Linked DNA regions of Homo sapiens: region 1 is linked to region 2. A link means that fine-mapping ties the variant in region 2 to the expression of a gene that starts in the linked region. Tissue or cell type: whole blood. Region 2 holds a variant in brackets; the other region holds the start of a gene. All regions are shown on one strand. Distances are from middle to middle. Region 1 holds the start of GNL3L (G protein nucleolar 3 like). Region 2 has its middle 8.6 kb from the start of FGD1.

What was found.
Region 1: GNL3L starts here. The variant in region 2 is fine-mapped to the expression of GNL3L in whole blood (TOPMed, PIP above 0.99).

What each region holds. Positions count from the first base shown.
Region 1 is chrX:54,528,055-54,532,445 of GRCh38, forward strand. GNL3L (G protein nucleolar 3 like) reads left to right here and starts at 2,165. Exons shown (of 16, transcript NM_001184819.2): 1 at 2,165-2,365. RefSeq lists enhancers at 1,566-2,086, 1,741-1,790, 2,241-2,300, 2,311-2,570.
Region 2 is chrX:54,502,656-54,507,046 of GRCh38, forward strand. No RefSeq gene overlaps it. Among named protein-coding and RNA genes, the nearest start is that of FGD1, 8.6 kb to the left of the region's middle. The variant G/A (reference allele first, on the strand shown) is at 2,147.

The DNA of each region.
Region 1 (4,391 bases), 25 kb after region 2:
TGCAGGGAGAGGAAATCAAGCCACTGCACTGCAGCCTGGACGACAGAGCAACATCTTGTCTGAAAAAAAAATTATTGTTTATATATCTATATAATCTATAAGCAACATTGTTTGCTGTTTTCTAGATTTTAAAACTTTATATAAATGGTTTCATACTTTATGTGTCCTCTGCAATTTGTATTTTATCTCAGTATTGTGTTTTTGAAATTTAGCTGGGTCAATGCATGCAACATGATTCATTCTTTTTCATTATAGTATTCTGCATAGTATTCTGTCATATGGCTATACCATAATTTACTTATTCATTCTCCTGTTGGTGGAATTTTGGGCTGTTCACATTTTTTTCTCTATTACAAACAGTTCTGCAATGAACATTCTTCCACATGCTCATTGAGCAAGTGTATAAGAATTTCTCTAGGAGTTAAAGTTTAGAGGTGATCTCTATCTATCTATCTACCTATTAATCAATCATCTCCAATACTAGAACTGCTGGGTCCCAGGGTCATCTTCAGCTATTCTGGATACTTCCTAATTGTTTTCCAAAGTCGTAATAACTAGTTTCCACAAGATTTCATTGTATTTTTTCCCTTATATCTTGTGCATTTGGGATTTTGTTTAAAAAGTCCTTCCCCAGTCACAAGTCACAAAGATATTCTCCTGCATATATTAACTTCATAGTTTTACCTTTCACATTCACAGTCTACCCTCTTAGGTGGAATAAATAGAGATCCAGTTTTATATTTCTTTTCATGGAGAGCCAAATTTCCCAATGCCATCTACTAAACAGCCCATTTCCCATTTTTTGTGGTGCAGGCCTGTAAACTCACCCATTTAACAAACAGTTGTTGAAGCCTGCCTCATACCAGTCTTGTGCTGGGTGTTGTTGAAAGCTTGAAGATACATGGCCCCTGCTCTCAGGGAGTTCACCCTCCTGTGGAGACACAGTCACATAAACAACTACAGTATTGTGATAAGTGCTAGCTTAGCTGTATAGGTAAGGTGCTCTGGGTTTCTAACTCATCTGCGAAAGTCAGAGAAGGTTTCATCGAAGTGACAAGAGTTAGGTCTTAGAGAAACAGAGCAAAATTGCAAATGCAGGGGGAAAGGTGAAAGTGGTCAGGGCTGGTTTCAGGTCCAGAGGAATTTCATGTGTCTCTAGGATGAGAGGTTAGAAGCCCTCCAACGATGTAGAGAGGTAGTGAGTCCTGTTTATGTAAGGGATAAAGGGACAGATGGAGTCATTTTCAGCCCGTCTGTGCTTGAAGTGGAGAAACAAACCCACCCTCGGAGGCACAGAGTTCCACCTACTCTGTGCCCCACCCCAGGGTTTAGGCTTGAGGAAGAGGAGGGGCTGGAATTAAACCATCAAGAAGAAAACATTTGCAGACTAATATTTACTATTTTGTGGGGGAGACCTCACTTCCCAGCCAGCTCCTTGAGATGGCTTCAGAAACCCCTACTTGCCCCACTCCAGAGATATAAATTCATTCCCTTCTGCAGACGCTGCTCCGGGATTGAGGGAAGGATGGAGTAGGAGGGGAAGAAGGCAAAAGGGTGGGAGAGGCTTCTAGTGTGGGAGAGGCTTCTAGTCGTTCTGGCTCCTGCTCCAGCTCGGGTTGGGTATGGCCATAGATCTGAACGTATGCAGAAAAAGCTAGGAGTGCTCAGGGATGGTCTGGGGCTCAAGGACCCGGGAAGGTGGTTGGGAATAGCTAACCAATTCACTTCAGGTGGGGAAATACTCGGCCAGACACGTGACCCAGGCGGCCATTTTCTCACACCCTGCTGTCGCCATCTTCCAGGCAGACAAAGACACCATCCCCCACCCTTGTCTGATTCGGGCGTGGTGACTGCCTGGTTATTGAGATTTGGGAGCACGCATATTTAACCCCAGACAGATGCCCGCAGACAAAATTTTGGCTTGCAAGTAAGGTATATGGCCGCACCAGTCGACCCGCCGCTTCTTCCCGGTCATTTCCCCGTCCTCCTTCTCCCTCCTCCGCTATTTCCTTAACTACGGGGCAGGCAGGAGGCGGGGCCAGCGTGGTCGCGAAGAAGGGACGGGCGGGCGTGAGCTGTCAGTCAGAAGCTCCGCCCCCCCCCCCCCCCCCCCGCGGAGACCGCACGGTGGGCGGAGTCGGGCGCCGCCGGCCTGGGATCCGGAAGTCGGAGCCTAGCTGCGCGAGAGTTTCTGCTCGCTCAACCGAGTTGTCGTGTTGCCCTCGCTTCTCAGATCCCCGCCGGAAGTGTAAGTAAGAAACTTCTCTCCTCTTTTCTCACAATGTGCGCTCACCTAGACGGCCGGGCAGTTAGGATCGTCTATTGGATGTGAAACCAGAGATGCCCGCCAACCTGGAATAGAGAGGTAAACAGCAGGATCCCTTCCAGGGTAGAAGGGACCGGAAGAGGGGCAGGGATCGCGGCACACGTGGAGACGCGCCGAATTGCCTTTTCGCGGAGTGGAGTTTGCCGGGAGAGGGGCATTGCCCCATCCCACCTAGAAAGGTGTAGACCCGGGACACACTGTGTAGAGAGGCACAAACTTCACTTGTGTGGTGAAGCGTTGATCGTCCTCAAGATAGTGAGGCTTCATTCTGCATTCACCTTGTATAGACAGGAGTCGACCCACCAAAGGCATGGGGGACATCCACCCCAACCGTGTAGAGACATCTCCCTCCACCCAGCTGAGCAGCGCAGACTTCTCCCGACTTAAGGCACTTCCTTGGCTTGGCTCTAGACAGCCGTCTCGAGGCACCTCCTCAGGACAGACAGAGGCTTTGATGTATCTGCCCCCATACCAGCATAGAGGAGCTTAGAAACATTTAATATACAGAGGGAGGGCACCTCCTCCCCATACGCGTAGACTCAGAGCCCTCAGTATCGCTCCCCAACTCACCCGTCCCCAAAGTGGTTGCAGTTACAGGCCTCAGCTTATGGACAACTAAGCCAATTGCCCCCTCCTCTTAGGTTAGAGTGAGTCCCCATTGTGGAGAATCAGACCTGATCCCTACTTCCGTAGCCCCCGTTTTACCGAATGTGTAATTTTTCGAAGCACCCAACATGCTTCGAAGCAAACAGGAACAGACCTTAATCCATGAAGAGACAGTCAGGTCTGCCCCTTGAGGGGCCGTGGGGGTAGAGGGGCTCAGATGTGTTCCTCTCCCTTTGAGGTAGACACAGATCATCCCCCTACCTCCCCCTACCTCCCCCAAAGATTTAGAATCACTAAATGTAGCAAGGGAGATACCCCACAGGAGCAGATATGCAGGTCTCCCTCCCTGTAATGTTGAGAGGGAGTGACATCGCTGATTACCTGGCAGTTCAGTGCGTATGGTCTCTCCCCTTTACCCAAGGTAGTGGAGCTCAGATCTGTTTCTCTCCACCCAGGGTAGAATCACAGACGCCCCCACCCCCAAGTATTAGGGCTGATCTATTAATTTATAGCTGCATTGCCAGCCCCCTCCACACACCACCCATGCAGAGAACCAGAGCCCCTATTTCTTTCAGTGTTAGTGTGCCGCTGACTTCAACCAGCATAAAAGATGAAAGTTGTCACAGTCCACCTTCCATAGAAGGGTCCAGAATAGCTCACTGCAGGTAAGGTGCAGACCCGCTTATTCAAAGCTGCATAGTTGTGGAATCAGGCATATCGATCCTGTACCACAGCCCTCTCCAGGGTGAAGAGACGCAGGACCCATCCCCACAATCTAGAGATAAACAGATCTGTGATTCTTTCCCCATGCAGCAGAGATGCACACAGCCACTTTGTGGGTTTCCCCAGTTTCTCTGCACCCCAGAGTAGAGGGACAGATGGCAATCCCCCCAACCCAAATCACCAAGGTATAGACCCCAGGCATATGCAGGCACAGATTTTTACCCCCTCCTCCAAGATTTTGTACTTATCTCAATCCATATAGACACTCAGGTAAGAATCCCTGTTCTCAGGCCCCTTTTCCCCAGGGTAGACTCCTGAGATCTATTTACGCCCTTCCCCACCACCTCTCCCAGGGTAGATGAGATATAGAATCCCCTACTTGGGAAAAGAGGCACTATTATCACCCCATATAGAAATAGACCATCCTTGCATGTCCCTTTCCCCTCAGTGTGGAGGTGTTGAGCACTAGTCCCCTACCTAGAATATAACACTACAGTGTGGAGGAATAAGGACCAAAGACCCCATCTGACCCCATTTGACCCCACTGGGCTCAAAGCCCAGTGGCTTTGAGCCACTGACTCCACCCCGGATGAGGTTGAGACCTATTCCTCCCTTTGGGTAGTATGACACTGCCTTCTCTGTGTGGACTCAGCCATATGAGGCTTTAGCTCCAGCTTCTCCCAGTTTTCCTAATTATTACGCCTTCCTCATAATGTTCTTTAACATTTTACCTTTA
Region 2 (4,391 bases):
GATAGGGACACAGATTTTTTAAATTGTTTATTCAAACTGTACAGATATGTATATTATAAAATTTATAATGTATATCATGAAAAACAAATAAATTAATTAATTAAAAAAATAAGACTAATTGCCTAGAGGGCCGGATTGTTATAGGATCCTCACTGAGGTTAGAAGGAACACTTCCTCCCACCCCAGTGAAGTGGGGTTATGTGCGTATGCAGTTCCCTTGAGAAACATGGCTGTGAAGGGAAATAGATCCTAGGGAGATAGCATGATCATAGGAAGAGGGTCAAATAATGTTTTTTTTTTAAGATGAGAGATGCTGGACTATGTTTCCTTCTGGGAATGATCCAGTAGAGAGAGAGAGAGAGAGAGAGAGAGAGAAAGGCACTAACACAAGGGAAAGGAAAGGTTGGGGTTGGGATCTAGGGTACTGAGCCTCAGAGGGTCCCTGGACCCTTAATTGTAACAGGAAGGAATGAGAAAAAGACAAATGCAAATACAGGTAACTTTACAGATTGAGTGGTGGGAAGATAAAGGCCCTGTAAAAAATTCTTGATGTTTGATGGCTTCTATTTTCTCACTGATGCATGAAGTAAGGTCATTTGCGATAGAGAAAATAGAGGGCCAGGCGCGATGGCTAAGGCCTGTAATCCCAGCACTTTGGGAGGCTGAGGTGGGAGAATGGCTGAGCCCAGGAGTTGGAGACCAACCTAGGCAACATAGTGAGACCTGTCTCTACAAAAAATTAAAAAATTAGCCAGGCATGGTGGTGCCTGCCTGTAATTCCAGCTACTTGGGAGGCTGAGGCAAGAGGATCCCTTGAGTCCAGGAGGTTGAGGCTGCAGTGAGCCATGATTGTGCCACTGCACTGCAGCCTGGGTGACAGAGCAAGACCCAGTCTCAAAAAAAAAAAAAAATTAGTCTTTTTTAGTAGCATGGTTGATAGAAATTTGTTTTTTACTATTGACAGTTTAGCAAAGTTTCAGTTTCATATAATAATAATATTTTATACATGTTTAGGACTGCTATCAAATTTGGGAAAACCCTTGTCTAGTTTCTTTCATATATGAGCTGTAAAATTTCAGGACATTTTAATTTTTTTGTAGAATGACAAATCTTCAGTACTATGATTGTTCACTGTTCATTAAACAGGGCCTTGGAAGAGACCTGTGCAAAGGAGGAGCCCTGAAGCTTAAGCTTCATTGATTTCTATGTAAATCTACCTCTGGCCTCTTTAAATTACCTCCTCCTCCAGGAAGCTTTCTCTGATTTTCCCAGGCTGAGTTTTTCCCACAGGGCTTTATTTCTGCCATTTCCCCAGTCTCTCTGAGCTTTCCCAGTCTCTCTAAGCTAGGTAGGTCTGCCTCAACTACTAGAAGGAGGGAGCTCCAGAGTACAAGGAGTCAGGACCCACTTACCCTAGAGACCGCAGTCTTCCATTAGTCTGTCAGCAAACCTTCAATTGAAGCAGTATGGCATTGTAGTCAAACATGTAGTCCTTGGAAGCAAGCAGACTGGAATTTGGCTTTTTGTATCTTCAGTGCATGGGAAAGGATTCATCCCAATCCTTGGTTTATGATATACTCTCACCATTGGTCCGGGCAGGAGCTTCATTCACTCCTAGCTCCTCTGTGTGATGTTGGGCAAGTTATTCATTGTTTGGAGTCTCAGTTTCCCCATGTGTAAACTGTGGATGATAATAACACCTACTACATCAGACCTGTGAGGTTCTGATGACATAATCCACGAAAAGGCATGCACAGGACATGGTGCCTAATGTTTAATAAATGGAGCTCTCCATGTGACTGGCACTCTATCATGAGTGTAGGATACAGTAAGGAATAACAAAGGCCTGGGCCTTGCCTTCCTGAACTCATAGTCTAGTGGGCCCCATATGGCCCAGTGCTCACCCTGATATAGCCAAGAGACTTGTGAATGATTGTTGGATCAGAAAGATTTAATCCTTTTGTCTCTATTTCTCTCTCTCCCTTTTTTTTTTTTTTTTTTTGAGACACAGTCTCACTCTGTCACCCAGGCTGGAATGCAATGGCACAGTCTCAGCTCACTGCAACCTCCGCCTCCTGGGTTCAAGCAGTTCTCCTGCCTCAGCCTCCCGAGTAGCTGGGATTACAGGTGCCCGCCACCACACCTG[G/A]CTAATTTTTGTATTTTTAGTAGAGACGGGGTTTCACCATGTTGGCCAAGCTGGTCTCGAACTCCTGACCTCGGTGATCCACCCACCTCAGCCTCCCAAAGTGCTGGGATTACAGGCATGAGCCACGGTGCCCGGCCACTATTTCTCTTTCATGTTTTTGTCTCTCTTCCTCCCAATTAGCCATCACTGTCACCACCTCTCAGACATCCCCTATCTCTGTCTCTATTTTGCTTTTTCTTGTCTCTCTGTTTACAACTGTCTGGCTGCTTCTTTTTCCTGTCTCTCCTATTCTCTTTCTCAAACTCTCTCCCCTCTCACTCTTGTTCTCTCATTCTATTAGTTATGTTGCTGGCTACCCTGTCTCCATCCTGTCTGAGTCTAACTCATGATCCTCATCTTGGTCCATGTCTCTGTCCTTATATATATGACCACATTGTTCTCTCTCATCTGTTTTTTTTTTTTTTTTTTTCTGAGACGGAGTCTCACTCTGTCACCCAAGCTGGAGTGTCGTGGTGTGATCTCAGCTCACTGCAACCTCCGCCTCCCAGGTTCAAGTGATTTTCCTGCCTCAGTCTCCTGAGTAGCTGGGATCACAGGCATGCACCACCACGCCCAGCTAATTTTTGTATTTTTAGTAGAGACGAGGTTTCACCATGTTGGCCAGGCTGGTGTCGAACTCCTGACCTCAAGTGATCTGCCTGCCTCAGCCTCCAAAAGTGCTGGGCGTGAGGCACCGCACCCTGCCTGTTTCTAAATTTCTATGTGTTCCAGAATTTCTGTCTTTTCTGTTTTCCTTTCAATTTCCCTTGGCTCCTTGGCCTCTTTTATGTATTTCCAGAAGTCTCCATCACTCTGTCCCAATTTATCCTATTTCTGGCTGTCTCTCTCAGTCCTCATCTCTGCATTGCTGCATTCATCTGTCTCTGCTCCCCGCTACCACTGTCTTTCTCTATTCTCACCTTTCTGTTCCTATCTCTGTATCTCTGTCTTCATTTTTTCCCTCTTAACATTTACATTCTTGTTTCTGTCTTTCCCTCTCTCACACACACTCCTATGTTGGTCTTCTTGCCTCCTTCTCCCTGTCTGATTCTCTCTCATTACTCTATATCCAATTTTTACCTCTATTTCTCTGTCACCATCTCTCTTGTTGGGCTGTTTTCCTCATGTGTCTGACTCTTGTCCCCATCTCTCTGTCGCTAGGTGTGCTTCATCTGCTATCTTGTCCCCAGCTCCACGTCCTTTTGTCTCTACCTGTGTCACTGACAAAGTAGTCAAGAGTATGGTCTCTGGTATTTGACTATTTATTTGGATTCCAGTCCTAGATGTGCCATTGACTTGCTGTGCCTCAGTGTCCTCATCTGTAAAATAGGGCTGATAATAGTACCTGTGCTTCATAGTGTTATTGTGAGGATTAAATGAGTTAATACATGTACACCTCTTAGAAGATGTTTCAGACAGAACACTCAAACATGTAGACTTTGACATCACTGACATTTCCCTCCCCATTGTCATCACCATCTCTGTTTCCATCTTTGTTTATCTAATCCTAGTCATTCCCCCTCCAACTACCTGGCTATTACTATTGCTTTGTTTTTCTCTCTGCCCACAATTGTTTTGTTTATAATTAATTTTATTTATTTATTTATTTATTTATTTAGAGGGAGCCTCATTCTGTTGCCCAGGCTGAAGTGCAGTGGTGCGAGCTTGGTTCACTGCAACCTCCGCCTCCTGGGTTCAAGTGATTCTCCTGCCTCAGCCTCCCAGGTAGCTGGGATTACAGACGCGCACCACCATGCCAGGCTAATTTTTTTTATTTTTAGTAGAGATGGGGTTTCACCATGTTGGCCAGGCTGGTCTTGAACTCCCGACCTCAGGCGATCTGCCCGCCTCGGCCTCCCAAAGTGCTGGGATTACGGGAGTGAGTCACCGCACCCAGCCTAATTAATTTTATTTTAAAACAATTTTTAATTGAGGCATAATATATGTACATATTTTGGGGATACATGATTTTTTTTTTTTTTTTTTGAGACGGAGTCTCGCTCTGTCACCCAGGCTGGAGTGCAGTGGCGTGATCTCGGCTCACTGCAAACTCCACCTCCCGGGTTTATGCCATTCTCCTGCCTCAGCCTCCCAAGTAGCTGGGACTACAGGCAGCCGCCACCATGACCGGCTAATTTTTTGTATTTTTTAGTAGAGACAGGGTTTCACCGTGTTAGCCAGGATGGTCTTGATCCCTGACCTTGTG